Linked DNA regions of Homo sapiens: regions 2, 3, 4, 5 and 6 are each linked to region 1. Evidence: fine-mapped expression QTL. A gene starts in region 1. Each other region holds a variant in brackets. All regions are shown on one strand. Distances are from middle to middle.

Region 1 (5,090 bases):
CCTCAACAATCCATCTCTTTCTGTTCCCTTCTGCTTTATCTTACAGATGAGGAAACCAGGGTCATCTCAAAGTCACACAATCAGTTAACTGGCAACGCCAGGGCTAAAGCTGAGTTATCTGGTATCTTTCTACCATACACCTCTTCTTATCTGAAAGTGACTAACAAAAAGCAAAGCACGTGGCCAATGCACATGTACAATTTAAAAAGTTAATTTCATAGACCACATCAAAAGGAACCAGTGAATGTTATAATTTGGATGCAGTGGTTATACTTTTATTTGTTAACAGCATTACATTAGCAGGCATGCAACATTTCTAACAAATCAGTTATTGTTATTACAAGTGGTACCCCCAAGTTCCCCCTAACAAAAACCTGTGGCAGTGTTGGGAACAAAGAGAAAAACACTTCACAACGGGAACATTTTCTATCCTCCATATGGGTACATTATTTTTATTTATAATTGACTGTAAACACCGCTCCCCCCACAAAATTTCTAAGCTCCCCCCAACTGACTGATTGAACACCTCCACCAAGCGGATTCCAAAGAAACTTGAAAAACTAGTTCAGGCCATGCTGGGAAAGGGAAGTCAGACATGCCTCATTATACTTTCCTCTCTTTGGAGTTCAGGCACAACTGACCAGTATTATTATTAAAACAAGAGATCTTCATACCGACATAACAGACTCTTCTTAGCAATAAGATACCAAAATTCCAACATGACTCTAGTATAGCATCACATGAAAGATAGCAGGCCCTAAATCAAAGCATTTTACCCTAAAATAAATTTCTTTGACACTTTTTGAAATGGCCCTACACAGCCATCTCTTGTGGGGAAAATCTACATTCTATAGAGACTCCCTTTCCCTTTCCAGGTCTTTTCCTGATCCAAGAGATATTTAACTAAGAGTCTGGCATCTTTTTACACATGATAAGAGACATTTGCCAATTATTCTCTCTGAAGCCTGTTACGTATGAGACTTCGTCTACATAATAAGAACCTTGGTCTCCACCTTATCTTAACCCAGACACATTCCTTTCTATTGATTCCAGGTCTTTAGGTCACAACTTAACTCTTTCAACCAACTGCCAATCAGAAAATCTTTGAATCCACCTGTAACCTGGAATCCTTCCCCTTTTTGAGTTGTCCCATCTTTATGGACCAAACTAAGTACACCTTCCATATACCAGTTAATGTCCTTATGTCTCCCTAAAACCATATAATCCCAAGCTGTAGCCCAACCACCTTGGGTACATGTTGTCAGGACCCTGTGGGGTTGTGTCATGGGTCACGGTCCTCACCTTGTGCTCAGAATAAACCTCTTCAAACATTTTACGGAGTTTGGCTTTTTTCGTCAACATGAGCCTCTAACAGTTGGTTACTGGATCATCCTGAGGAATCAAGGCCATAGCACTTAAAGACCCATAAATAATCCTACATGATATTCACTGTGTATTCTATGTAGGTGTAATTTCCAAGCTAAAACATAATTAACCCCACTAATAGACACAACAAACATCCTCTGTATTATCAGCACGCACACAGGGCTTTCTCTGCTGCGAGTGGACTTGTGTCCTTACTTATAATTCTGGAATCTTCTCTAGGGGAGAGGCTGGTCTAATTTCTCTCTATTGACCCAGGGCAGGCAGGAAACAAGGCACACTGTGGAAAGAATGTTTGAATGTTCAGGCTTCTAAGTGACAGAAAAGCAGCTTGTCTGAAAAATGATTTTTTTCTGGCTTCTAACCAGTGTTAATTCACTTGGAAACCAAGGCAGTTTTCTCCCCTTTACTGAACTCTGGATTTCTTTTCCAATCAAGGCCCCTGACACCAAAGAAGGAAATGGAGCGTAAATCAGGCTACAGAGTGGCTGCCATTCATTCGGGAAGCCTTATTGTTTTCCGTCCTTTGTTCCCCTCTAGACCCTTGCCAATCCCCAGGCCGCGAGGCCCTCTGAAGCCCTGAGCCTGGAGCGGTAGGAGACGGGGGAACTGAAACGCCGCGGAACCAGAGGCTGAGGGAGCGGCGCGATGGAGGGAGGAGGAGCGACGGACCGGCAGGCCTAGCTCCGGGGCTGCGGCGGCTGAGGCGCGGGGATGGAGCCCCTGCGGGTGCTGGAGCTATACAGCGGCGTGGGCGGCATGCACCACGCGCTGAGAGGTGAGAGTCCATCTAGCACCCCTCTCTCTATTCGCTCACGGGGGCTGGTTGGAGCACCCGCGCCGGGAAGGGGCGGAGCGGCGAGACGCAAGGGGCGGACACTGTGGGGCGGACACTGTGGGGCGGCCCTCGGTTGTCCTGGAAACAGCTCCTGCGCGCCGCCGTGTCCACCCCTCCAGACGCTGACTCCCTTCTCCTGGCGCCGAGTCTGGCTCGAGGGGCCGCACATGGCGCCTCAAAGGGCCCAGTTGGGAGTCGGGATTCGCAAGGCAGTAAATCAACCTCAAAGGGTATCAAAGGGGCGAGACCCTCGCCTGGTGCCAAGCCCCCATTCTAAGTGTGCAGCCACCGAGAAGCATGGAGACTCGGTCCTTCATCCTGGGGGGCTTCCCAGCTGGGGAGGGAGGGAGTGTCAGGGGCTCCCCTGGTGAGAGATGGATCTTGGAAGGGATAATAGCTACAATTCAAGGTAGAAGTTTGCGAATGCTAAATAGGATGGTAGAGGAAGCTTGAAGAACTTGGACGTCTGATCGTTGGAAAGAAACGTGTCTTCTGTAGTTCTGCGTTTAGATGCCAGAGAACTGAGTTCCAGCTTGGTGGCAGTGTGACGTTGGGCTACTTCGTGAACAGTGATGAACCTGTTTCCTGGTTTTAAAAGAGAATGATTATTATAAGGATTAAAGTCTGTCAAGTGCTTGTTAGTGCCTGATACATTGTAACCACTCCAAATATTATACATTATTATCACTATTACTTTAAAACGACATCACGAGATATTATCAAGCAAACTATTACTTTTATGCACGTCTTTGATTTTGAGGTTTTTGATTTCTTTCATGCTGAGTTGGAACTGAAAGTTTTACTTTTGGTGATATTCACTCAAAATTATTTATTGAGCTCCTATTCTGTGCCAGATTTTGTGCTAGGAGCTGGGGATACAGAATGACAAACAGGCTTTGAAGGTGCATGTTTATTCTTAAATTACTAAGACAACCACCGAACTGAAACTTCCCTGCTTCCTTATTTAGGACCAAGAGTAACAAGAGTAACTGTAAGATACAGACAATATTTAATGGGTTTAGCGTATAAGTTTTTTGAGCAGATTTATTGAGTTTCAATTCTAGACTAGGTTAATGATCATTAAGTTTTTAGTACTTGTTTGCCGGCTATCTTTATTTCTCATTTTAAAACTTAGCAGCATCAAAGCAAAACTCTAGTACTATTTACTCTTTGTTAATTCTCTAAAGTGATATAATGTCCGCGTTTTCCCATATCTTGAAACTCCTTAATGAATTGCTTAGTACTTTATCATAAGCTGTAATTCAGCCATTCCTTAAGTGTCGAATATTTAGATCATTCTTCAGTTTTTTTGCAAGTACAGTGTGCTACAGTTACATTCTTGAGCATAATGCCGATTTTCTCTTTAAGCATGTTTACTAACTGTTGGAATTAATTCAACAGTAAGACTTAACTGTGTGCTAGTTACTAAGTGAAAAACAGAATTTTTAAGGCTTTTGAGAGAGAGGATAGCAAATTGCTTTTCAGAGATTTTTGAGTGCCTTAACTACATATTCATCAGGGATATGTATTATCAATTTTTAATCCTTGCTAATTTGTTAGGGGAAATTGTGTAATTTTAAGTGACAGTTTTGGGATTAATGAAAGAGTAAAATATTTTCTCTCCTATTAGCCAATGCAATGTGAATTTGTACACGTTTTTCTATTGCCAGTTCTACTGTTGTGAATCCAAGCTATTAAGTTCTGTAATTTAAATTATTAACATAGCTTCCCAGCTTCTCTCCTTACTTCCATTCTGCCTCCCTACTCCGTTTTCCTTCTAGCAGGCAGCATGATCATTTGCACAGTAAACCAGATCATGTTACTTCGTTGCTTAAATGGTTGCTTTTGAGATTGTAATCACAGTCCCATCTTAACAGGCTTGTGAGTTCTGGCTTCTGTCTTCTCTTCAATTTTATCTGCCACTCTCCCTTCAGCATCCCGCTTCACCGTCAACACCCAAAGCTGAAATTCTAATTAAACGATTCCCTGAATTCTTTCCTCAGCCTTTCTTGTCGAGGCTTACTGTTTTTCTTTCTCTCTACTCCTCAAACCCTCGAAGTTCTTCGATGTTCTGGCCTTTGCTTTTGCTGTTGCCTCATCCAGAGTGCTCCCTAACCCCAGACTTTTTCACTCTAGCTTCGGTTCACATTTCATGTCTTAGTTCATATATTGGCCTTCCCTGGCTGACCCTGTGATCCAAAGCAACTTTCCTGCCTCCCTGTACCTCTCTGCTCTCTCATCTTTTCGGTGGAAATCTGCATATTAGGGATATAGACTCTTAATCATATTGATGCAAATATTTTTCCACACTTGTTTGCCTTCCCATGTTCACTTATTTGATGTACTAAAGTTTAAAATTTACCTGTAATAAAATGCATTGCTCCTTTCCAGGTGGTTTTTAATATAATAATAAAGACTAATAACAGCAGCTAACTTTAGTGTTTATTAGGGATCTTTTAAATTCAGGTCCTTTTTTAAGTATGTAATAAACTAGTTAGCGGTAGAACTGGTATTTTAACCTAGGTCTACCTACCTGACCTTTTAACTATGCTATGTTGCCGTTGTTCTGGTTAGAACTACTAACTTCCTTGGATCTATACATTAAATAATATAATAAGCAGCACAAAAGGAATAATATTGAACTTCATTTTTGACTGATTTCTAGATAAGGTTCATAATGGAATTTTTTTATTGTGGTAAAACACAACATGAAATGTATCATTTAAACTATTTTTAAATGTATAGTTCAATGGCATTAAGTACATTCACAATGTTGTGCAACCATCACCCTTGTTCATTTCTAAAACTTTTTAATCATCTCAAACAGAGCTCTGTACCTGTTAAACAATAACTCCAAATTCCCTTTCCC
Region 2 (5,090 bases), 350 kb before region 1:
AAGATTCGAGTCATGGTGGAAAGGAAGGGATTTGTTTGAAAAACACTGAGAAGAGGAAAACAAAATCTTAGAAAATCTGAAACAAAATGAAAGAAACCCTCATTTTGGCCCCAGGTGATGTAGGCCTGTATTTCATAAAAAGGAAGAAGGAACAGAAAGGCAATGGTAGCTGCAGTCTGACTCCAAAAGTCTTGAGAATAGCATAGGTTTTTCTTGTAAGTTTCCTTTTTAGTAGTTTCATTCAGCATCGCACACAGAAGAATTCCTAAACATTCTACTTAGCTACCTCTCACTTCCCCAGATTTTCCTTTTGCGGCAGGCACTAAAAATCCCCTCCTTTATCAATCTCTTCTTTTTCCCTTCTCAGTCTCTCTACTGCTTTTGTTGTTGATCCAGCCTACCCTCCTCCCCAGAATTCTGCACAGGATCCTTCCCTCCATGTGCAGTCTCCTGGGAAGGCCTCGTGTAGGGAAAACTCTCTCTCACCGTGCTTTTCCTCCACCCTCACACCACAACAATCTTCAACACAGAAGATTTCTGTGACGGAATGCTTTTTCCCTCCACATACCAAGCAGTAGACATCATCTGGGCATCCTTTAATCCAGTTTTGACACTATCTACCTGGAGATAGTGTCAGATCCAGTGAGTTGAAGGCTCAGTCCCCCACACTACCCCTCCCCCAAACACACTCTCTAGTTGCAGGTCTGGGCCTCCAGAACTTCTGACCGACCGGCTTCAATTTGGGTTCCCGTGATCTGTTTCAACTCAGCTGATGTGCTGGAGCGGCTCACAGAATTCAGGGAAACACTAGCATTTACTGATTTATCCTAAAGGCTGCTGTGAAGGATGCAGATGAAGAGATGCCTAGGGTGAAATACGGGGCAAGGGGTGCAGAGCTTCCACGCCCTCCCTGGGCCCACCATTCTCCAGGAACCTCCACACGTTTAGCTATCCAGAAATTCCCTGAACCTTGTCCTCTTGGGTTTTTATGAAAGTTTCATGCCATCAGTGTTCCTTCCCCCAGGGTATTGGGTGGGACCTTCTCATGGGAGGGTCTTAAGACCCACAGTCAGAAGGGCAGGGGACTCTTAGAGTCCTGCCTTGGGCGGGTGAAAAGGGGGCAGGAGAGAGATTCTGTGTCTGGAGGTCCGCGCCTGAGGCCTAACACATCCAACTTCGTAACAAAAGTCTTGCAACAAGGGCTATGGGAGTTATGAATCAGTAACCATGGACGAAAACCAATGTACAACATAAGACCACAAGCCTCATCTTCCTTTTACTGGAAAGAAGCTTAAGATAGGGCTTAGAAGTGAGGTAGGAGGTAGGACTCGGACACCGGACCAAATTGAGGATTAGCTAAAATAGAGTGGAGGGGGAAGCAGCTTTCCATAAGACACACCCACCAGTGGGCCATGTCAGTTTACCATTGTCATGGCAACACCTGAAAGTTACCCCTTTCTATGGCAACGACCTGAGGACCCAGAAGTTACCTTTTTTTTTTTTTTTTTTTTTTTTTTTAAGACGGAGTCTTGCTTTGTCTCTCAGGCTGGAGGGCAGTGGTGCGATCTTGGCTCACTGCAACCTCCACTTCCTGGGTTCAAGCATTCTCCTGTCTCAGCCTCCCAAGTAGTTGGGACTACAGTGCACACCACTATGCCTGGCTAATTGTTGTATATTTAGTAGAGACGGGGTTTCACCATATTGGTCAGGCTGGTCTCGACCTCCTGACCTAAGGTGATCCAGCCACCTCGGCCTCCCACACTGCTGGGATTACAGGTGTGAGCCACAGCACCCAGCCTGTTACCACCCTTTTCCCAGAAATTTCTGCATAAGCTGCCCCTTAATTTGAATGTAATTAAAAGTGAGTATAAATAGGACTGCAGAACTACCTTTGAGCTGCTACTCTGGGCACACTGCCTGGGGGGTAGTCCTGTTCTGCAAAGAGCGGTCCCTCTGCT[G/C]TTCCTGTACACTGCCGCTTCAAGAAAAGTTGCTGCCTAACACCGCTGGCTCATCCTTGAATTTTTTTCCTGGGCAAAGCCAAGAATCCTCCCAGGCTAAGCCCCAGTTTTGGGACTTGCCTGGTACCACATCAGAAACATAAACTTCGTAATGAGATATTCTGCATCTGAGTTCGAGCCCCTCCACTTACCTGTTCTGTGACCTTGGCCAAATTATTTAAGCTTAATTTCTTCATAAGCTGGATTAATAATCCTACTTACCTAACAGGGTAGAATTAAAGATTGAATTGAAATAATACACGTACAGTGCTTAACATAGCAACTGGTAGACAGTCAATGCTCAATAATTCTCTTCTCTTCCATTCTACTTTTCTCCTAAGAAATAAACCAATACCAAGACCTTTTATACCATGTTATGTGATATGGTTAAAGTGTTGCTGACTCCTTGGCTGGGCGCAGTGGCTTATGCCTGTAATCCCAGCACTTTGGGAGGCCGAGGTGGGTGCAGCATAGGTTCAGGAGTTTGAGACCAGCCTGGCCAATATGGTGAAACTCCGTCTCTACTAAAAATACAAAAATTAGCCAGGTGTGGTGGCACATGCCTGTAGTCCCAGCTACTCGGGAGGCTGAGGCAGGAGAATCACTTGAGCCTGGGAGGCGGAGGTTGCAGTGAGCAGAGATTGTGCCACTGCACTCCAGCCTGGGTGACAGAGCAAGACTCCATCTCAAAAAAAACAAAAACAAAGACAGTATAGGGGACTCCTTTGAGAAGGTCTCAGTCTCCTTTTTTTTTTTTCCATTCAGAATCTAACCTTTTCTCCCTGACCTGTGTGTCTTCTCTGGGGTGAGTGTGAGTCCTCTGGGACCCTCTTGGGGAGCTTTCATCCTCCACTGGGATCTCTGCTGCCTTGTGCCTCCTAGGAGAGTTTGCAATCTCCCAAGACTAGGGCTTAATCCTCTTCCACTAAATCCAAGGGCTGTGTCTCAGGTAGAAAGAACAGGACTGTGCCTTCTCTGGAATCTGTGCCTGCTGGGAGCAACTGGCCACTAACCGTCCCCAACACCTTGATCAAAACACCAGGAGATGAAGATTGGGGAGCTGGACACCTGGCTTTGGGGCACTCTGCCGTGCTCCAAGGAAAACTGGAAATAGGGTCTCTATGCCAATCCTGGCTGAATCTTAGCCTCCAGTCAAGTTTGAAGAGGCCACTTTCCTCTGCTCACTGAGACTTTCTAGGCTTGCTGTCTCCAGCTCAGAGGGAGAGGTGTTCCCACCTCCACGGACCCATATCTACCTTCACACCTTCACTCCAAGCTCTGTTTGGTTATTGCGATGGTTAATTTTTGTGTCAACTTGGTTAAGCTGTGGTACCCAGATGTTTCATCAAACACCAGTCTAGATGTTGCTGTGGAGCTGTGTTTTTAGATATGATTCACATTTAAATCGGTCCACTTTGAGTAAAGCAGATTATCCTCTATAATGTGCATGGGACTCATCCAATCACTGGAAGGCCTTAAGAGAAAAAGACTGAGGTCTTGGAAAGGGGAGGAATTCTGCCTCCAGGCTGCCCTTGGACTCCAGCTGCAACATCAATCTTCCAGCCTGCCGGCCTGCCCTGCAGATTTCAGACCTCCCAGTACCGCAATCTCATGAGCCAATTCTTTACCATAAATCTTTTTCTCTTAACTCTTTCCTCTCTCTCTGTTCCTCTCTCTCTCAATACTCCTGACTGCAATTATCTTATAAAGCCATAACTGCCTTCAAGAGACCCCTTTTCCCTTCTTAGCCTTGAAGAACTTCATCAACACCAAGAATTCAGGAATGAGGAAAATGCATAGTAAATAGCTGGTCAAAGAAGACCCTGGGCTTCTGAAAGATCTCCAGCTGTTCCTTCTCTAACCTCGGCTGGCTTTGGACTCACCTTTCCAAGTAATCTTCTAATTTTTCAAGGATTTCAATTAGTGATCATATCCTATCTGAAATGACTCCCAGTTTAAATATAGTTTCTCTACATCAGATCCAAAGAGCAAAAGAAATAATAAGAGAATAACTGAAACAATAAGCCTTTCCTATGTAAATATTTGGACACGACTACACTGGCAGAGATAATGCTGTTGGATGGCTGCCCCTCCCTGTAGGCCCACCATGAATGTGACCGCTGCAGGTACAGCCAGACTCAAGTATGTTGCATTGGTGCTGCAATCAGTCCTGTGATTTCCCCAAATGGTGAACCACTCTTGGCAAAGTTCCAAAACAAATTTTGGTCATTGCAGTCCTAGAAAATTCAATGTATAAAAACCTGCAAAAAAAGTAACAGTTTGGTTTATAGGTATGTTAGGGAAGCAGGAGCCAAGGAAAGCCAGGGTGACACCATTTTAAGAAGACCTCCATCTTTAAACTAGCAAAGCACATTTCTTGACAGGCGCAACCCATGGTTCCAAGATGCTTACAGCTAAGAAAGCAGCTTGGTAATCCCTGCAAGGACAAACTCCTACAGCATCAGAAAATCCAGATGCCCCAAAACCCATAAGAATATATGTTTTCTAGGTAATAATTGGTATGCTTTGGTGTACTCACACACTAGACTGTCAAGGCTAGTTTTTATTTTCTTTTTCTTTTTTGAGACAGAGTTTCACTTTTGTCACCCAGGCTGGAGTGGAATGGTGCAATCTTGGCTCACTGCAACTTCTGCCTCCCGGGTTCAAGCAATTCTCCTGCCTCAGCCTCCTGAGTAGCTGGGATTACAGGTGTGCACTACCATGCCTGGCTAATTTTTGTATTTTTAGTAGAGACGGGGTTTCACCATGTTGGCCAGGCTGGTCTTGAATTCCTGATCTGAGGTGATCCACCCGCCTCGGCCTCCCAAAGTGCTGGGATTACAGGTGTGAGCCACCGCGCCCAGCCAAGGCTAGTCCTCTTTAAATCAACAGAGTAACACATTTGTCATGATGCCTGCTCACCTGCGCGTGGACACAGCTCAGTGTTTAAGAAAGACTTAAAGCCAGGGCTTTCCTCTACTTCCTTTCTGAGGATGCCTTTCTCTGTAAGTTTCTAATAAACTCGCTTCTTTCACTATGCTCTGTGACTTGCCTTGAATTCCTTCCTGTGACAGATCAAAGAACCCTCTCTTG
Region 3 (5,090 bases), 44 kb after region 1:
TATATTGTTCTTTGCCCAGAAATTAATAGAAAACCCATTTCAAAAATTCAAGATACAAGCTGTGGAAATTGGCAACATATTTGATCTCTTAAAATTTATTTCATATTTATTGCCTTTTAGCTTGTAAAACATAGTGTATCATCCTTTTTTAACAAAATGAGGTAATAAATAGCCAAGAATAGCTATATTTGAATTTTTAAATTATTAATATATTATCAATAATGAATGTAAAAATATCTATACTACGTCTTAGCTGGGAAATATAAAATGGAAGTGACTTGTAGATATATTTGTCAGTTTCAATCTTTAACTCATTCAAATAAAAGTACAAAGTAGCAACTTAATAGTTTAAAATGTACTACAATGGAGTCTTCTACAAATCCGTAGCAAATTTTGCTGTGGTAGAAGCTAAATGTAGGCTCGTTTGAGTTTTTTGTTGTTGCTGTTTAACTTGGTGCTAAAGTTGGTACCGCTCTCTTTAATTTTTTAGAGTAACTAACTGCTTTGCTTTGCTTACAGCTTGGCATTCCAAATTCAAGGCTACGATATTTTCTTATTGCAAAGCTTCAGTCAGAGCCATTACCCTTTCAAGCCCCTGGTCAGGTATTATTATTGGAATTTTATTATGAATATTATGGCTTATTTATTATAAATATATATTAGTCTGCTAATTTATTTTCAAGAACTACTTTGTGTAGCTGTCTCTGTGTACTATAGAATCTAAAGTATAGACCATGCCCTAGGTCCATCTTCAAGGCTGTTTTCATCTTGCCACTTTTATTGTTTTAAAACAAAACAAAAACAAAACAAAACAATGTTTCTTTTTCTCATTAGAAAACAAATGAGTTAAAAAACTTATCATTAGTATTGTTATCTTCCTCCTTCCCCCATAATTTCCCTTTTGACCGTTGACTATTTTGCATTTATCATTTTATCCTTCCCATAGAAGCCATTGGTTACTTTTGATAATATTTTATCTTAAAAGTGGCTTACAAATATTTTAATACATGGGTTGCATTTTCTTTAAAGCCAATGCTATTTAGCTTAATTGATTAAAATATAGTAATGATTAGTACAAGCTAGAATAAAATGCTTAATTGCTACAGAAAGAATCTCTAATTATGTGAGCAGTTTTACATGCTTAGGTCAAAAAACGGGGATGGATAACTGAGTTTCAGCATTTCGGCGAAACTCTCCCTAACTTTCATAGGTAAGGACACAAAAGTCATGTCTACTAATAAGGGATTGGTAGTGTCACCTCAATCCCTTTATAATATGATACTAATATTGCTCCCTTTCCATAGTAGCCAATTCCAATGTAAAGTTAATATACCTTACACATTGTATTAAGTTAACAGTAACTTTATACATTGACTTCAAGGACTTCATCATTAAAAATTCCTGGAATGGTTTTCCTTTTACAAAATAGGACTTTATACATGGTTGTATGTTTTGCAGAAACAAGTTTTTCCCATAGGACTCATGAGTAGAAATAACCTTTCACAGTGAAAACCGCTTTTCTTTTTTTAATTGCTAGTTTTCCTTTAGATCATAGCTATGTTTTGGTTTTTCCTTTTTAATGAAGGAGTATGGCAAAACTTGATTCAAAACATGTTTTCTGGAAATGTTAGTGTTGCTTTCTAAACTTCTTTTCCAAATAAGATACAAATATGATTTATCTATATTCAGTATATACTTTCTGTTAGTTTATTGAATGTTTTTATTAATAAATACTGTAAACACTAATCCATGAAATAAATCATCTGCAGCCTGATGACAATATAGCTATATGATTAATAACGTGTAATAACTTGTACAAATACAAGTAAACCACAATTTCTATCTTTTAATGGCAACCCCATAAAGGCTAATGAGGTTGTTTTCGTAATGTTGACTGGACATTGTTAATTTCTCTTATTTTTAATGCAACTTTTGACAATTTGTGTATTTTTATGTAATGCCAGGTACTGATGGAGTTCCCCAAAATTGAATCTGTACATCCACAAAAATATGCAATGGATGTAGAAAATAAAATTCAAGAAAAGAACGTTGAACCAAATATTAGCTTTGATGGCAGCATACAGTGTTCTGGAAAAGATGCCATTCTTTTTAAGCTTGAAACTGCAGAAGAAATTCACAGGAAAAATCAACAAGATAGTGATCTCTCTGTGAAAATGCTAAAAGATTTTCTTGAAGATGACACTGACGTGAACCAGTATCTTTTACCACCAAAGTCATTGCTGCGATATGCTCTTCTGTTAGACATTGTTCAGCCCACTTGTAGAAGGTCCGTGTGCTTTACCAAAGGGTAGGTTTTAAAGATCTATTGATCCTGTATCCAAAATAACCAGGTTTTTTAAAGCTATTGTTTCTTTAAGTTCTTCTAAAAACAAGGAGCATTTTATAAAATGTTTTTGCTAGAATGAGGTATTTTCCCTTAATTGCCTACTTCATGTTCCAGTAGAACACAAGTAAAAATTCCGTTTGGCAGAACATTATGTGCACCACCCACAAAAGTGCTCATAAAAGACAATGTCATTTGTTTGGTGACCTTCATAGGAGCTTAAATACCCGTAGTGGAGACATGGTTTCTGTAGACTATTACTTGCT[A/G]ATTCTTTAGCACTTCTGTGGCACATCATACCTCAAGTGTTCACTCTTATGATCAATGTATAATAAGAAATTAAATTTTAAACTAAAGATGTAATATTGAGTCATCTGGAGAATACTAGGGTAACTTTTAAATTTAAATTTTATTCAGGTTTTTATATAAGTAATATATGCCCAAGGTTTCCAATTCAAAAGATAACTAAGATTGTAAGACTCCCTTCCATTTCTGTCTCTTGACCATTCAGTTCTTCTCCCCACATGTGACCAATGATATCAGTTTACTGTATAATCTTCCAGAGGTATTGTATCTGAAAGTGTATTTAAGTATCCATGTATATTTTATCCCCCTTTATAAGTAAATGGCAGGATATTATATATATGCCCCTTTTTTCACTGCACAATATAAATAGAATATTATCGCATATCAGTACTTAAAGGACTTTCTGTTTTCATGGTGTAGGTATATTATATAATTTACTTTACTGGTTACCTATTCATGAACATTTAGAGGGCTTCCTTTGGGTTATTACTTGAACATTTAATACAGTTCTCACTAATTTTTTTAAACCTAGAAAGGGGAAAATTAGACCTTTTTAAGAAAAATTTTGGCCGGGCACGCTGGCTCATGCCTGTAATCCCAACACTTTGGGAGGCTGAGGCAGGTAGATCACCTGAGGTCAGGAGTTTGAGACTAGCCTGGCCAACATGGTGAAACCCTGTCTGTACGAAGACTACAAAAATTGACCAGGCATGGTGGTGGGTGCCTGCATTCCCAGCTACTTGGGAGACTGAGGCAGGAGAATCGCTTGAATCTGGGGGGCAGAGGTTGCAGTGAGCCGAGATCATATCCCTGCACTCCAGCCTGGGCGACAGAGTGAGACTCTGTCTCAAAAAAAAAAAAAGAAAAATTTTGCCAAGGATCTCTGTCTGTGCTTTCTGAATGCTACTCAACCTCATTTGGTAGGTAGTTGTATGATTTGTCAATTCAGGCTTTCTGTTCTTACCTTCTAGCTAGCTATTAATATCTTGTATGATACACTGTACCCCAGTAGAACCATACCAGAGTCATTCTGAATTTATTATACTCTGCCCTTGTACTTCAGGGGAAAGAGTTTATTGCTTTCCATTATCTTGAAAGACTTCACTGGGCTGTTGTCAATTACCAAGTTCAATAGGTTCTGTTTAGGACTCTCATAAAATAAGACTTAGCAATTTTGTAATAAAAAACAACCTTGAAATTCTTTTCTAATTATAAAGATGGCATAAAAGGAGCCTGATGGTAAAATTTATTTTGGTATAGATACTGTGTGTATATACACACGTATTTATATGTGTAATATATATGAAAAAGACAGTTTGAAAAAAATTATTTTTTTCCTGGTTTGACTTTTTCCCTCTAATTCTTATTTTAAACTGTTTTCTTTGTGAAAAAGAAATAATGCTAATATGTTGAACAGCCAGCTTGGCAATAATCTTAGAGAGAGAAATACTGCTAATGACTTGCATTTCTGAAGTGTTTTATACTTTCTATGGAGTTTTTTATATAATGGTCTGATTGTTGTATGAAAGTGATCATAAAATCATACTGTGTTAAATGACAAGCAGACATAGGATCAGTGGCACTGTGTTTGCTGTGGTGTTAGAGAGCAGGGCGGTGGGTTCCTGAGAGGAAATGATGGTTCAGGCCTGATAAAAATGGCAGCAATTTCTTTTCACCTGTACAACATTTAGGTTAATGTGGCAAGGGAGCCAATATTGAATTATATTTGAATATAAAGTGCATCCTTTCCAGTGATGAACATTCAAGACAAGACAATTAATAAAAAGAAATGACAATTTATATTTCATCATTCAGTGGTGTTTACTCAACTCAAAAAACTGTGCCATGTTTCATTTCTGAGACATTTATTATTTATTATCATTTTTTTGAGATGGAGTCTCACTCTGTTGCCCAGGCTGGAGTGCAGTGGCGTGATCTTGGCTCACTGCAACCTCCGCCTCCCAGGTTCAAGAGATTCTCCTACCTCAGCCTCCTGAGGTAGGCACGCACCACCACGCCTGGCTCATTTTTTAAATATTTTTAGTAGAGACAGGATTTCACCATGTTGGCCAGGCTGACCTCGAACTCCTCTGACCTCAGGTGATCCACCCGCCTGGGCCTCCCAAAGTGCTGGGATTATAGACATTAGCCACTGTGCCCGGCCCATTGATGAGACGTTTAAATGAAACTATATTATGTCTTTTACCTAGTAATTTTTTACCTACAAAGGATATTTATGTGACATTATTCAAGATATTTCAGAAGGATGTAACTGTGTAGATTGATTAATTCATTCAATAAATATTTAAGAAATTTAGCATTAACACATACATCAGGTGCTGCATAATTGTTGTGTTGATTTTTCAGATATGGAAGCTACATAGAAGGGACAGGGTCTGTGTTACAGACTGCAGAGGATGTGCAGGTACTATGCATGTTTTAA
Region 4 (5,000 bases), 370 kb after region 1:
CTTGGAGGTGATATGCATTTGAATATCGTTTGAATGAATTATTTAAAAGATGGTGGATCACTTAAGATTTTACACCTTTTATCTAGTGCTGCTAATATTATATGATTCTTATTTGTTTCATTAATTTATTCATTACCCTTTCATTCCCTAAACATCTACAGAGCACCAGTCCAAACACCGGAAATTGGGAACCTTAGGGCCCGCAGGAGACTCCTAGTCTGGCAGGAAGGACAGATGGGGTATAGCCAATTACAGCACAATGTGGAAAGGACTAACTGAGTCCAGCATGGGTTGGGGTTCCTAACTCAGTCTGGGAACTAGAAGGCTCAAGAGGGCAATATGTAAGTTGAGACCTAAAAGGATCAGAGGGAAGTCTAAGGACAACATGCTGGTTCTGTAAAATGAAGCTCAATGATACTAAATAGCTCACCTAATTTTCCTGACAGCTACAGTAAGTTTGGGGCATCGTCAACATCCTCTAAAGACAAGTGTTTCCTTGAATAAATGCTCCCTGGTCTCAGGGGGGTGTGGTCTGTCCTTTCTTCACCACAACTCCAGAGCTTGAATTTGGGCACAGAAATGACTTCACTGTTTGCCCATCGTCCACACACCCACCCCCCACTCCCACCCCAGGACACACTGAGAGAGAAGCCCCCTTGTGCCTGGAGCAGGCAGAACCATGCGCCTCGTGGGCCTGAAACTTTGGGGTCCTCCAGTGCCCCCGATGAGCTCCCTCTGTGCTCTTTCTGCCCCATCGCTGCATTGGGCATATGAGATGGAACATGAACATCATCGCTCATAGGCAGGAGATAGTCTGAATAAGCCTCATGTGATGTGGACCCAGTGTGTGGAACTCAGCCCCTGTGTTTTGCCAGAAAAACCCCAGAGCTCACGGGGTTTGAGCTTTGCAAGCTCTGTCGAAAATGCATTCATCCTTAGGAAATATACTTAGGTGGAACCTAAAAACCAAGAGCATAAAGATGCTGAGTTCCTCTGTGAGTGGAGTTTAAATCTAAACCTCATCCTGACCGTCTCTAAACTGGCTTTGTACCACACAAGAGTCTTCAGTAAAGTTTCCAAAAAGTGTGCTTGTTCCTCTACCCCTGATCTGGAGTTGTATTTTTTATTTTATTTTTTTTCTCACTGCCTCTTTAATCAGGTCTTCATTCAAAATAAGCTGCCCAAGAGGATTTGACCTTTGTAGCATAAAGAAATGTACCGGTGTAGGCAGCGGGCTCCTTTCATTCTGTGGGACGATTCTTTCTAGCGGGCCTCTGCTCAGCTGATAGTTTCTTGGTAGCTTCAGCCTTTGTTCCCAACAAAACATCTTCTGCTTCTTAGCACCAAGGGCTTTCTTTCTTTCTTTTCTTTCTTCTTCTTTCTTTTCTGCCCTGCAACCCCCCTCATCCGATTTGGCTCCTAGGGCTGCTGGCACCTTCTGCCCAGCCTGGCCAGGAAGGGTGTTCTGGCATATGGTCTTTGCATATGGGTTTAGCTTCAACATGATTCCTGATGCGGAGTTTTATCATCCTGGAAAGCTCTCCCCTTTGGAATTCATCTAAATCCTTTATTAATCAATAACCTTAACATATAGTGCCATAAATAACACTCGGAGGAAGCTCATGCCTTTTCTAAAGGAATACTCGCCACGACAGGAGACCGAAAGATGTATATAGCAGGGAGGAAATGAAGAGGCAAATACAGTTATTCTTTGTGCCGGTCAGGTTATTCAACTTGGACCTGTGTACCTCCCCCACCATGGAGATCCAAATATTTATATGAAGTGTAAAGCAGAAAGAATGAGGAGAGTGGGATCTGGAGGAAAGATGGAATAATCCCGTTAGGTTGGAGTCACAGTGCAACTAACTCTTAACTCACTCCAGCTTGAATGGACCATTATTGATCAGAGTCAACGTTTGCCATTTGCCTGATAGATGCTGGGAAGCAAAGCCTTGCTTTCCAGCCGTGGAGAGTGAGAATTCCTCCTCCTAGCTGTCCTTCATTACTCCACAGAATGGATCTGAAACTTCCTGTCCCATAAGCAAAGAAAGGAAACCACCGCTTAGGCCTGTAAAATGTAGCTCCATCT[G/A]GCTCTCAGTGGGAAGGCTGTGGGCATAGTTTCTTGGCAGCTGTACCAGGAAGCCTCAGCATTCCGTTCTTGTGAACTGCGGTGGGAACGGAAATGTCTGACTGAGAATTCTGACTGTGTTACTACCAAGCGAGGGCCGAGCTCTAGACCATGCTTGGAATCTGTTTTCATGCCTTCACCTCCCCTTTCAAGATCCTCTGATGTCCCAGAGATGCCCACTGCTCTAGGTGGCCCCATTCTTCCTAGGAGAGGAAAGTGAATAAGACAAGTTGTCAGCAGTGTCAGTGGAAATTAGTATCCTGCTGCTCCTCTCAGAGCAACGGCATTTTGAAAGAGGACCCTGAGGGAAAAACGCCCAAACTCAAAAGCGTGGTGCTGGCTATGGCAGCCCTCCCATCTACTAGTGGATGACTGGCTACTCTGTCATGGCAAGGTTACTTTGTTTAAACACTTAGCAGAATAATCCCCAAAGCACTAGAAAGGCATTATTCTCTCCCATGGGCTACTACATCGACCTAAAAGGAATCTCACCTGATCAACACAGCCCAGCAAGATGTCTTAACTTTGTGACTTAAGATACCAGCAATTAACCAAAGTTTAAACCATGGAATTATATAGGGAACAGAGGAACTTCCAATATTTTGAATACATAGATCAGTAAAATCAGCATTTCCGCATGTCAGGCTGGTTCCAACATACATTGCCCGCGTAACGTTTCCGTAAGAAGCGTCGAGAGCCCTCCTGGAAGCAGGGCTGGTTGTGAATGCAGGGTAGCAGCCAGGCTGGGGGACAGAAAGTGGTTCAGTTCACAGTGTAGTTCTCTCTCCCCATAAAACACAGGCTCATCTCCTGTTTTTATATGTGTCTACTCAAAAATGAGTTGAAACAAAAAAGCAACAAGGCCTCGGAATGTGTTTGTAAAACACATTTAACAACAGACATTGTATAGATTTATAATTCTGTCCTTTGCCCATACAGAAATTCCTTTCGTTCTGAACTTTATTATACTTTGCATTGTATTTTTTCATAGCCTCTTTACAGCCAAGTAATTTTCAATGGGAAACACGTGCACACACACACATACACAAACACACACACAATGAGAAAGGTGTAATAGTTGACTGGAAGCAGAGCAGGCAACATTGCCCCCGCCCATCTCCACCTTTTAAAAATTCACTTTACCTACATTCTCCAGAATGTTTCCCCAAAAGCAAAGGCTGCAGGATCACAGCACAAACTACGGTATAAAAAAGCTGCCTGGTGTTTTAATTGCTGTAGGTTAACAGGTATTTCTGAATCCAAATGCAAATGTTTTTTGATCTACACGTGGAACATTTTTCCCCTTTGCAAGTGAAGGTGACTTCTGCATGTATTTTCAGAAAACGCTTCATTCTTAACTGTATAAAAAGACAAAGCTTTTCCGACCAATGTCATCATTCAAATTGTCTCCATTTTAATGTATATACCTTAGAGAAGAAAGTGTAAGTTTAATAATGAATGACTCCTTCCTAAAGGTGAGAAATGGAAGTAACAGCAATTCACCATTACTGGGCAAGTACTGTGGAACTCTGCTGCCAAACCCTGTCTTCTCTCAAAATAATGAACTATACCTACGATTTAAGAGTGATAGTGTAACTTCTGATCGTGGATATGAAATCATCTGGACTTCATCACCCTCTGGTAAGACATTTGCACTTTGTACAGGAAAGCACTGTGAGAAAAACATGAGGTGTCTAATAGTAAAAGGCAAAGTAACTTTATATTTTTAGCTACCTGTGTACCTGATTAGTTTATGTTAAGAATAGAGATTTTAACATTGAAAGTACAGATTACTTTTTTTTTTTTGAAATGGAATCTCGCTGTGTCATCCAGCCTGGAGTGTAGTGGCGTGATCTTAGCTCACTGCAACCTCCACCTCCCAGGTTCAAGTGATTCTCCTACCTCAGCTTCCCAAGTAGCTGAGATTACAGGCATGCGCCACCATGCCCAGCCGATTTTTGTATTTTTAGTAGACAGAGCGTTTCCCCATATTGGCCAGGCTGGTCTCAAACTCCTGAACTCAGGTGATCCAACCTCCCAAAGTGCTGGGATTACAGGCATGAGCCACCGCGCCCGGCCAGATTACTTTAAATTTTACATTTATTCATTATTTCTGTTTATAAAAGAATATATATTCATATATGAAACATATATAAGGTAAGGTAGGAAGATTCAAAAATTCCTTGGTAAATTAAATTTTGTTAGACTTTTTGACTTTTGGCTTGACCATCAAGGAAGTTCTTTGAGAATTTAAAGAAAAATTTTTACCAAAAATCCAACTTATGAACACATTCTGGCATATATATGAGTAGTTGTGCTTCTCGCAGGCCCTGACATTTCTTGGCGGTTCTGGAGAGAAATTGCTTTTTTTAGGGTAGTAAGTATCTTCTCACATTTTTGGCTGGCTGTTTATCAAACAACTAAAGAAAATTTAAGTCATGTCAATACATTTAATTCAAGAGAGGAGGAATACCTTTATAAAATATCCCAAAATACCAAAATACCTTCAAAATAAGAAAGATAAACAGAACTCACTTTAAATATCTTAAGAAAAGCGTTCTATAAAGATAATCGTGGGTAATGGAATCTTGGCACCCAAAGGAAGCTTAAAGGTGACCTCCAATGCTCAAATTTTATCAACGAGCAAATAAAACACCAAGATTAAGCTAGGTGCTGTGGCTCACACCTATAATCCCTGGGAGACCAAGGTGGGTGGATCACCTGAGGTCAGGAGTTCCAGACCAGTGTGGCCCACAGGGTGAAACCCCATCTCCACTAAAAATACAAAAATTAACTGGGTGTAGTGGCACATGCCTGTAATCCCAGCTACTCGGGAGGCTGAGACTGGAGAATCACTTGAACTTGGGAGATG
Region 5 (5,090 bases), 66 kb after region 1:
TTTTTTTTTTGGCAGAGTTTCGCTCTGTCACCCAGGCTGGAGTGCAGTGGCTCTCGGCTTGCTGCAACCTCCACCTCCTGGGTTCAAGCGATTCTCCTGCCTCAGCCTCGCCTCCTGAGTAGCTGGGACTACAGGTGTGTGCCACCATGCCCGGCTAATTTTTTTGTATTTTTAGTAGAGACAGGGTTTCACCATTTTGGCTGGTCTCAAATTCCTGACCTCAAATGATCAGCCCGCCTTGGCCTCCCAAAGTGCTGGGATTACAGGTACGAGGCACTGAGCCCGGCCAGTGGAACCACTTTCTATAGTGTGCCCATACTGGGCCTTGGACATCTTTCCTAGTTTGGTACCTGCTGTTTACTTAACAGCATGCTACTGTGTATCTGTGCCATCTTGTCACACTTGTCTTTGTAATGTTGCCTAACTCTGGCTCTCCAGATTTGTACATTACGACTTTATTGTAAATCAGAGAAGGTCAATAAATTTACTTCTTTCAAATTTCCCCCATGGTCAAGGACTTCGTATGTCTTCACTAAATGCTTATTAAGCCTCTAAAACAATGGAATTTAGATAAAGCTGGTAGGAATAAAAAGTGAACATTGGTATAAAAAACAGCAGTGAAATATACTAATGTGGCAATGAGATGCTCTTCAAGAATTTGGAGAAAAATACAGAAAATAAGAGGGTAAGTAAAGTCTGTACACTTAGTATAAAATCTCCAGTCACCTCTACTAGTCCAGGTAGAAGACTGGAGAATTTTTTTCTGAACGTCTCCAGGGCAAGATGCCTTCAAAGATGGGCATTTGGGGTTCCCCAGTGAAATTGTCAGTTTGCCATTCGGTTGCTCTGTGGCAAAGCCTACCAGTTATAATCGCCACCCATGCACACAGAGCCTACCATCCATTCTGTAATGTGTTATTTTTAAATGTCAATGAACATATAAGGATCCATAGGTATTTGAGGAAAGCCTCTAGCATGAATTAGAAAGACCTAAACCAGCAAACAAATGGGAGAAAAACAACTTAGAGAAAACAGAGCCCATACAGGAAACAAGAAAACATCAAAAAGCAACTATCTAAAAATTACTAGATGATGTTACAACTACGAAACAAGAGCAAAAATCAAAAAAGGGGTTTTCAAATTTAAAATGATAGCAACATTTTAAAACAAATTACTAGAAAATTAAAAGATAAATACTTTCTCAGAAAGTATAACAAAACAAGACAAAGAGGTGGAAAATAGAAAATTATTTAAAAATTGGAGAATCAATCTAAGAAAAATGTAGAAATGGAAATGCAGACGCAATGGCAGGGACCACTTGACTCTCGTCATGAGTGAAGGTGTCTTTGTGCTCCTAGGTCACTTTAATGAGTGTACAGATAATTGGCAGGGAGGAGGATCTTTGTAAAATGAAGATTCTAATTCAGCAGGTTGGCAGTAGCACCTGAGATTTTGCATTTCTGACACGCTCCTGAGTGACGCCTGTGCTGGGTCTGTGGACCACACTTGGAGTAGCAAGGTTCTAGTCTACGCCATCTCTACATCTTCCCCACTCCCATCTTAGATGGTTAAACCACTTGCAGAGAGTGAGGCCTGTGAAGCAGCAGAGTGGTTGATATTCCTTAGAGCTCTATGTATCCAAATCTGAACTATCTTTCCTCCAAAATCTTCTTCCCCTGATTATTCTCTTACTCAATTAATGACATCTCTTTCCTTCCAATTCCAATTTTCCAAGCAAGAAACCTCTGTTCTTTTTTTTTTTTTTTTTTTTTTGAGACAGAGTCTCCCTCTGTTGCCCAGGCTGGAGTGCAGTAGTGCATAGTGCAATCATGGTTCACTGCAGCTTCCGCCTCCCAGGTTCAAGTGATTCTCCTGCCTCAGCCTCCTGAGTAGCTGGGACTACAGGTGCCCGCCACCACGCCTAGCTAATTTTTGTATTTTTAGTAGAGACAGGGTTTCACCATGTTGGCCAGGCTG[A/G]TCTTGAACTCCCGACCTCAAGTGATCTGCCTGCCTCGGCCTCCCAAAGTGTCAGGATTACAGACATGAGCCACTGCACCCGGCCAACTTCCCCCTCTAATAGTTCTAATGAAATATTAACTACCCAAGTATTTCTGTAGCCTGTTTTCTGAATATCTTTCTCACTGTCTCCTCATCTGACTGTCCATTGCCTTAAGGCTCCCCAGGTCACATCTCTTTAAGTGTACTCTAGGCGGGCCGATCATGAGGTCAGGAGTTCGAAACCACCCTGGCCAACATGGTGAAACCCCGTCTCTAATAATAATACAAAAATTAGCCGGGTGTGGTGGTGTGTGCCTGCAATCCCAGCTACTCAGGAGGTGGAGGCAGGAGAATTGCCTGAACCCAGGAGGCAGAGGTTGCAGTAAGCCGAGATCACGCCACTGCACTCCAGCCTGGGTGACAGAGTGAGACTCCATCTGCGGGGGGAAACATGTACTCTAACCTCCTTACCAACTCTGGGTCTCAGACATGGCTCCACAGGGTTGCTTGTAAAATGCAAACATGACCATGTTAATCTCTTCCCTAAGAGACTCTCATAATTCTGCAGTATTAAAAGTAAATAAAATCTAAGCTCATTAAAATGATATTTCAAAGTCCTTCTTGATTTGGCTTCCTGTTCATTTTTAAAACTTCATCTCCCACATATAGACACTGCTGTAGCCCTGCTGAGCTACTTTCTACTGAAAAGCTTTGTATACACCATTACTCTGCCTGAAACTCCTCACTCTACTATTCTACCTGGGAACTACTCAGATGGACTCCTGGGAAGCCTGCATTCCCCTTCCAGGCAGAGTTAATTCTCTCCTCCATTGTTCTCCAATAAAGGTCTCTCTCTCTCTCTCTCTCTCTCTCTCTCCCTCCCCCTCCCCCAACCTCTGTTTTTGTCCTTAGCCATATTCTGATTACCATGACCCCTTCTTAACCTTAAATTCCCCTCATATGAAATTCTAGTATACTGGGATTAACTTTCATGTATGTTTTTGATGACCACAGGAATTTTTATTTGTGAAGTCTGTGGGAATTATTTAAAGGAGGAGCAAAGAACTGAGCATTCAGAATATAAAGGGAGGAGAAGTGAATGTCACAGAAGGAGAAAAGGTTGCACAGAGATATCTTGAAAAACATAAAAAACAGGAGAAAGGAGTAGTTCATTCTGATTCTTACAACCACCTTCAGGTGGTTTTGGAAGGAGGGAGGGAGGGAGAGAAGGGAGCTAAGACTTCAGTGAGAAAGGCTGTGGAGCCAGGATGAGGAAGAAAGAGAAAGGTGAGACCATGCGACAGGACCGGAGCAGAAGTCAGCAGGTCATGAATTATGGATGAGCAGTACACTGAACATTTGGATACCACCCTCATTCCATGTACCATGTATGGTATCAGCAACAATGCAAAATACATTTGCATGTGTCTTGCTGAAGAAGTCAAAGAGAGTAAAGGCTGATGAGTGGAAATCAACAGTACAGCAGACACCATTATAAACTTAAAGTCTACAACATGCCATTAATGTTATCAGTGTTCTGACCTAAGGGTTTTATTTATTTTTTATTATTTTATTTTATTTTTATTTTTTGAGACAGAGTCTCACTCTGTCACCCAGGCTGGAGGGCAGTGGCATGATCTCAGCTCACTGCAAGCTCCGCTTCCCGGGTTCAAGCCATTCTCCTGCCTCAGCCTCCTGAGTAGCTGGTACTACAGGCGCCCACCACCACGCCCAGCTGATTTTTTGTATTTTTAGTACAGACGGGGTTTCACCGTGTTAGCCAGGATGGTCTCCATCTCCTGACCTCGTGATCCACCCGCCTCGGCCTCCCAAAGTGCTGGGATTACAGGTTTGAGCCACCGCGCCGGGCCCTAAGGGTTTTATTTTAATGAATGCGTACAAATGTGCATAAGGGTTCCTTAGGTAAACTCTCCAACTAGGTGCCCTCCTCCAAACACTGAGCAGCCCCCAGAGCAGATCCTCCCTGTCCGAGGGCTCCATTGCTAGCACCCCATATAAAAGCTTCCTCACCCTGGTTACTCAGTTCCACTCAAGGATGATACCGTTTCTTTTGGATTGCCTGCTCTTCAAAACTCTTGGATTTAAATGGAATCTTGCTCTCCACCCACCAATGTGGAGTTGTTCTGTGCTTCCTGGAGTCACCTTGCCTTGTTCTTAGACATCAGTTACCTTTGCCTCACACCTTTAACTCCAGGTCAGCAATCGTCTTCCTCACTCAAAGTCCCCAATTCATCTCTCTGCTCTGAAATCCTCTTTTATAGGAGAAATGATCAGACACCCTTGCTTCTCCTTGTACCCAAGATTATAAAGACAGCTGTGAATTCTTTTTGTCATTTTTTCTTTTAAGGAATCTAAACCCAAGAGAGGATACAGGAGGGTGAGGATTATTATATTTCTTTACATGATATTGATAACAGCTTATATTTAATGAACACTTATTTTGTGCCAGTAACCTAATGTGCTAAACATTTTACATAACTTCAGTGCTGTTATTATCTGTCTGCTGATGAAAAAACAAGGTTCCATGGTCAGTAAGTGATGGAGTCAGACTTTGAACGCACATAAATGAGCTTCAGGCCCGTGTTCTTAACCTTCAACCATGTGGTCTTCCCTAGACTGGAGGCTTCAGAGGGAAGAATCTGCAATTTACTACATTTCGTGTTCCTATCATCTTATAGATGGCTAATATGTAAAGGGCACATGCAGAATATTAGGGGAATGCATTCTAGATTAGGGAAGAGACAGGAGTTTTACTAGTCAATGAAAGATAGAATTTCAGGTCTATAGAATGTTTACCTTGGGAGAGGAGAAGAAGAGAGGTTATCTACCATATAGATCTGAAGGTCATAGATTCTAAAACTACTTTAATTCATCTTTCCTGAAGTATTTCTGAATAGAGTAAGTAAACAGAATGAGTGCCAATCCCTTGGAAACAGCAATTGATTTTTATATTGCTTTTCACAGAGTCAACATATGCAGACAGTCTGACTTGCCTATTGATCTGAGCTAGAGTTGAGTGAATGAGCTGGATGTAAAATTCCCTAACTCATCACTAAAAGTCAGTCAGACCT
Region 6 (5,090 bases), 72 kb after region 1:
ATTACAAAAGCATTATGTTGAGTGAAAGAAGCAGATACAAGAGACATATAGAAGAAATTGGGAAGGTTTAAAAAAAATTTTTAAAAGCAGTGACTATTTGAGTATCACAAGTAAAGTTTTTTTTTGTTTTGTTTTGTTTTTGAGACGGCATCTCGCTCTGTCCCCCAGGCTGGAGTGCAGTGGCATGATCTCAGCTCACTGCAAGCTCCGCCTCCCGGGTTCACGCCATTCTCCTGCCTCAGCCTCCCGAGTAGCTGGGACTACAGGCGCCCGCCACTAAGCCCGGCTAATTTTTTGTATTTGTAGTAGAGACGGGGTTTCACCACGTTAGCCAGGATGTTCTCGATCTCCTGACCTCGTGATCCGCCCGCCTCGGCCTCCCAAAGTGCTGGGATTACAGGCGTGAGCCACCGCGCCCGGCATAAGTAAAGAATTATAAGCTATGGTACATAATGATCCTCTCCTCAAAGAGCCTACATAAGTAAGACACAAAATAAGTAAAACACAAACAGGCTTGTCCTGAAAGAGCCTGCATGGGTATTAACCAATGCAATGGTAATTACCTAGAGATTTTTCTTAGAAGTGAAATTTTTACAGCTCTCCCTCAAATTCAGTTTTGTCTGTGTGCTCATGGAAAGTCTGAGTGCATCAATAGTTGATTTTACAATCGAAATGTAGAATATTTTCATCACTCTCAGTGGTTTCTGTAGTCCCAGCACAGAGTGAGTGGGGACATCAGTGCTCCATGTCCTCAAACCATATATCCAGCTGGAAGGGTGTATAGCGCAGTGTGGAAAGTGGGAATGGATTCCACAGCCGTCCATAGGTCCCACAGGGATGATAAAAAGTAAAAAGTACAAATTCTTTGTACATTCTGGATATTAACCCATTTTCATATATATATGATTTGCAAATATTTTCTTCCATTCTGGGAGTTGCTTTTTCACTCTGTTGATGTATTTTTTGATGCACAAACGTTTTTAATTTTGATGTATTCCAATTTATATCTTTTGGTTGTCTGTGTGTTTTTCTTTTTTTGCCCATGCTTTTGGTATCATACTCAAGAAATCATTGCCAAATCCAAAATCCAAGGTCATGAATTTTTGTCCTATTCTTCTGAGTTTTATGTTATAGTTTCAGATTTTTTGAACCATTGTGAGTTAATTTTATAGTTTTAGCTCTTAGATTTAGATCTTTGAACTTTTTTGAGTTAATTTTTGCATATGGTATGAGGTAAGCCTCCAACTTCTTTTGCATGTGGATATCTAGTTTTCCTAGCGCTGGGTAAAGGTGGAACTCCTCTGCAAGGGAGGTGAGGAAGGAGGGGAACAGAGAAAGGTGTAGATAATGACCAGTTTACTTTTGTTGAAACCTAGTTACTTCTTAAGCAAAGATTGTTTAAGTGGATGTTTTCAAAGCTGCTTGTTACTGTTTCAAAGGTCAAATAGATAATGATTAAGTTGCGCATCACTTAAGGTAGATTTTGACCTCTCACAAGTTGAAGAGTACTGAAGATCTAAGATCATTTACATCCCTCTGGAAGAAAAAATAACATAGCCTTCTAGGGCAAAGAAGAAAAAACTCAACAGTTACAGGATATTCCATGGTTCAAAGTACACCTGCCTGGTTTGCTGTTCTCCAAAATCCCATGCTCAGTTGGTTGGAGTGGCCTCACTCTTACCTGCCAACCTGGGAGGTTGATGATGAACATGTCTTTACCTTTTCTTTGGAGTTTGCTTACCTTATTAATATTTGCTGAAGTAAATGGCGAAGCTGGAGAACTTGAGCTGCAGAGACAAAAAAGAAGCATCAATCTCCAACAGTAAGTAAACACATGGGTCATTCCTGCTCAGGGACTAGGCTAATTCCTCACCAGTTTTCCCAAATAGCCAGATAAACAAAGGTGCAATTTTTCTTGAGGAAAATTATGTTGAGAAGCAAACAGGGAAAAACATTTAGACTGAGGTATGAAATTACTTTCCTATGCACAAATTATTATCTGTCATTTTGCAAATAATCTGTTTGCAATTGCCAGGAGGTATCTCTGAGAAATGTGCAGAGAAAAAAGTGGCAGATGAGCAGGGGCAGTTGGGTTGAGATGATCAAAAAGTGAAGATGTATTTGGCCTGTAGTTATTCAGTAAGAAACTTTGTTATTTTGGTTTAAAAATTGTACTTGCTAATTACTGATGCATTCTCT[C/G]GTTTGAATTATATAGGCCTCGAATGGCTACAGAGAGAGGAAATTTGGTGTTTCTTACGGGGTCTGCTCAAAACATTGAGTTTAGAACCGGATCCCTGGGAAAAATTAAATTAAATGATGAAGATCTCAGTGAGTGTTTACATCAGGTAATACACTGGAAATATATTGAAGTCATTTTGTATATCCATATACGGTGACTTAATTGAACAAGTCTAGATTAATCTGTACCTTGAATCTTTTTTAATTATTATTTTTTATTAATACATAATTTGATACATTCCTATAATGTGTAAAGTTCAAATCAGGGTAATTGGGATATCCATCACCTTAAATATTTACCTTTTCTTCATGCTAAGAACATATGAATTGTTCTCTTCTAGTTATTTTGAAATGTACAATAGATTAATGTTAACTATAGTCACCCTACTGGTCTATCAAACACTAGGTCTTATTTCTTCTATCTAACTATATATTGTATTCATTAATCAACCTGTCTTCAGCCTCCCTCCCCCTTCCTAGTGTACCTTGAATCTTTAGCATAGAGAACATAATTGGGCATCAGACATGTTCTTGTAAAGGACGATGGCCTGGGGTTAATAGTGGGTAGAGGGAGTATGCTAAAAGATAGAAGCTCATTGTGCCAGACAATGCACCCTAGTCCAGAGAAGGCACGGAGGGTGGAACTGAAACTCCTCCACAGGGGATGCGAGGAAGTAGGGGACCAAGGATATGTGGACATGTGACCAGTTTGCTTTTGCCACAGAACAGAATTGGCCAGTTATTCTCCTGCCTTACTGGGTGTTTTCATTTCCCAATAATCACTGCATATTTCAGTCATAATGTTAGAAGTCAGCATTATTCAGAGCTTACTGTGGGCCATCCACTGTGCTTAGCACCGTATGGATGTTATCTCATTTGACCTTCACAGCTGTCCTATGAGGTGGCCTTTATTGTCACCCTAGTTTTACAAGAGGTAAAGAAACCCTGAAGCAGTTAGGTAACTTGCCCAGGACAGCAATAAATAGCTGAGCCAGGACTTAAAACCTAAACAGTCTGCTTCCAAGCCAGGTTTCTTAATAAGCACCCTAAACTGGTATTATAGGAAAACATACAAATGGAAAATACCTTGATCTATTGTTACTGAAAAGGATAAGTGGAATTATGCTGTGGCTATTTTAGCCCAGTGTTTATTACGCATGGTGTTGTTTTGGTTTTTATAATAATAGGCAAGATCTTAGTGCTTAAAGTAGAATACTACTCAAGTTTTTAATTATGTTACTGTAAAGATAAATATGATATTTTCACTAGTGCTCTTCATTTCTTCTTCTTTTTCTAAAATTAGATCCAGAAAAACAAAGAAGATATTATAGAGTTAAAAGGGAGTGCAATTGGTCTGCCTCAAAATATATCTAGTCAAATCTATCAGCTTAATTCCAAGGTAAGTCTGACATCTACGTCATAAGAACCGATGAGTTCTCCCTAGTTCTATTGTATAAGTAACCGTTTTGTAGGGGATATACCAACTTTGTGTGCTCTTTAGAGATTTAGCATGTAACTACTCACTGTTTGGTTAAATGACACAGCTGTAATGGAGGCTGTAGAAGTGATGGACAGAAGGCAGGAAATGCTGTGCAAGCACTTGTTGCAGAAGTAGGCCTTGGGCTGGGAGCAGTGGCTCACTGCAAGTGAATGGATGATTAATATAAAAAACTGCCTGTAATCCCAGCAGTTTGGGAGGCCACAGAGGGAGGGTCGCTTGAGCCTAGGAGTTTGAGACCAGCCTGGGCCACATAGTGAGACTCCGTCTCTACCAAAAAAAAAAAAAAAAAAAAAAATAGCTGGGCATGGTGGCATGAGCCTGTACTCACAGCTACTTGGGAGGCTGAAGTGGGAGGATGGCTTGAGCCAGGGAGGTTGAGACTGCAGTGAGCTATGATCATGCCACTGTGCTCCAGCCCAGGCAACAGAGTGGGACCTTGCCAGAAAAAAAAAAAAAAAAAAAGAAAGAGAGAGAGAGAGACAGAAAGAGAGAGAGAGACAGAGAGAGAGAGAGAAAGAAAGACAGAGTGAAAGAAAGAGAGAGAGAGAAAGAAAGAAAGGAAGAAAGAAAGAAAAGAAGCCTTGCTGAAGTTCTGAGAGCAATCTTCTTATTGGGGAAGTGGATGCATCACTGACATTTATGAACATTTCCATAGTCACTGCCTACAGAGAAGCAATCGGTCAACTTATCAGTGGGTTGTACTTTAAAAAAAAACTTAAAAAAACCCCAGAAATCTATGTGATAGGAGGGAATAGGAAGGAAGAAAATCCTGAGGGGAGAGGAATGAAGAGGAAAAAGGGAATAAAAGGAGGAATGAACAAAGTGTGTCCCTAGCAGAGGGCATTAGGACAATATGTCAAGGATATAACATCACATGTGCAATGCCTTTGAACCAGCTAACTGAAGCTTTTTCTTCCCTATTGCCAGCTGGTGGATCTTGAGAGAAAATTCCAAGGCTTGCAGCAGGTAGGTCTCATGCTACTACATACCCAAATCTTTCACAGAAAACATACTAGAATCATTAATAGAGCTGCTATTCTTATTTTGAAGGTGAATGGATGATTAATATTAAAAACTTGCTTTTTCCCATAATTTAATTCTCATCCCAGCATGTGCTTCCCAGGATGCAGATGCAGAGCTGAGTCTAAGACAGATGAAATGACAAGGCTGAGGTCTCCGAGCCTGTTAGGGCTTCTGACCCTGAGTTTGCAGCCCACAGCCCACATCCTTTACCATCACCCTTTAGCTGTGTGTGCTGTGCTTGGTCAGCTAGTGATCTCCCAACTTGCTGATTCTCCCATCAGGGACTGGGGCTCGGAAAGCAAGCATCCTCTCTGACGCTAAGCTCGGA

Evidence for each region.
Region 2: its variant is fine-mapped to the expression of TRDMT1 in cerebellar hemisphere (GTEx, PIP 0.97).
Region 3: its variant is fine-mapped to the expression of TRDMT1 in whole blood (TOPMed, PIP above 0.99).
Region 4: its variant is fine-mapped to the expression of TRDMT1 in cerebellar hemisphere (GTEx, PIP 0.91).
Region 5: its variant is fine-mapped to the expression of TRDMT1 in whole blood (TOPMed, PIP above 0.99).
Region 6: its variant is fine-mapped to the expression of TRDMT1 in whole blood (TOPMed, PIP above 0.99).

The regions. Positions count from the first base shown.
Region 1 is chr10:17,198,642-17,203,731 of GRCh38, reverse strand. TRDMT1 (tRNA aspartic acid methyltransferase 1) reads left to right here and starts at 2,060. Exons shown (of 11, transcript NM_004412.7): 1 at 2,060-2,161. The coding sequence starts at 2,098. RefSeq lists a silencer at 2,363-2,422.
Region 2 is chr10:17,547,426-17,552,515 of GRCh38, reverse strand. No RefSeq gene overlaps it. Among named protein-coding and RNA genes, the nearest start is that of HACD1, 67 kb to the left of the region's middle. The variant G/C (reference allele first, on the strand shown) is at 1,959.
Region 3 is chr10:17,154,659-17,159,748 of GRCh38, reverse strand. It overlaps TRDMT1 (tRNA aspartic acid methyltransferase 1), which reads left to right. Exons shown (of 11, transcript NM_004412.7): 7 at 520-603; 8 at 1,965-2,308; 9 at 5,015-5,072. Among named protein-coding and RNA genes, the nearest start is that of CUBN, 27 kb to the right of the region's middle. The variant A/G (reference allele first, on the strand shown) is at 2,611.
Region 4 is chr10:16,830,021-16,835,020 of GRCh38, reverse strand. CUBN (cubilin) reads left to right here. Exons shown (of 67, transcript NM_001081.4): 64 at 1-7; 65 at 3,604-3,769. Among named protein-coding and RNA genes, the nearest start is that of RSU1, 15 kb to the right of the region's middle. The variant G/A (reference allele first, on the strand shown) is at 2,090.
Region 5 is chr10:17,132,748-17,137,837 of GRCh38, reverse strand. It overlaps TRDMT1 (tRNA aspartic acid methyltransferase 1), which reads left to right. Exons shown (of 11, transcript NM_004412.7): 11 at 1-502. Among named protein-coding and RNA genes, the nearest start is that of CUBN, 5.5 kb to the right of the region's middle. The variant A/G (reference allele first, on the strand shown) is at 1,978.
Region 6 is chr10:17,126,376-17,131,465 of GRCh38, reverse strand. CUBN (cubilin) reads left to right here and starts at 1,655. Exons shown (of 67, transcript NM_001081.4): 1 at 1,655-1,822; 2 at 2,216-2,345; 3 at 3,542-3,637; 4 at 4,667-4,705. The coding sequence starts at 1,701. The variant C/G (reference allele first, on the strand shown) is at 2,200.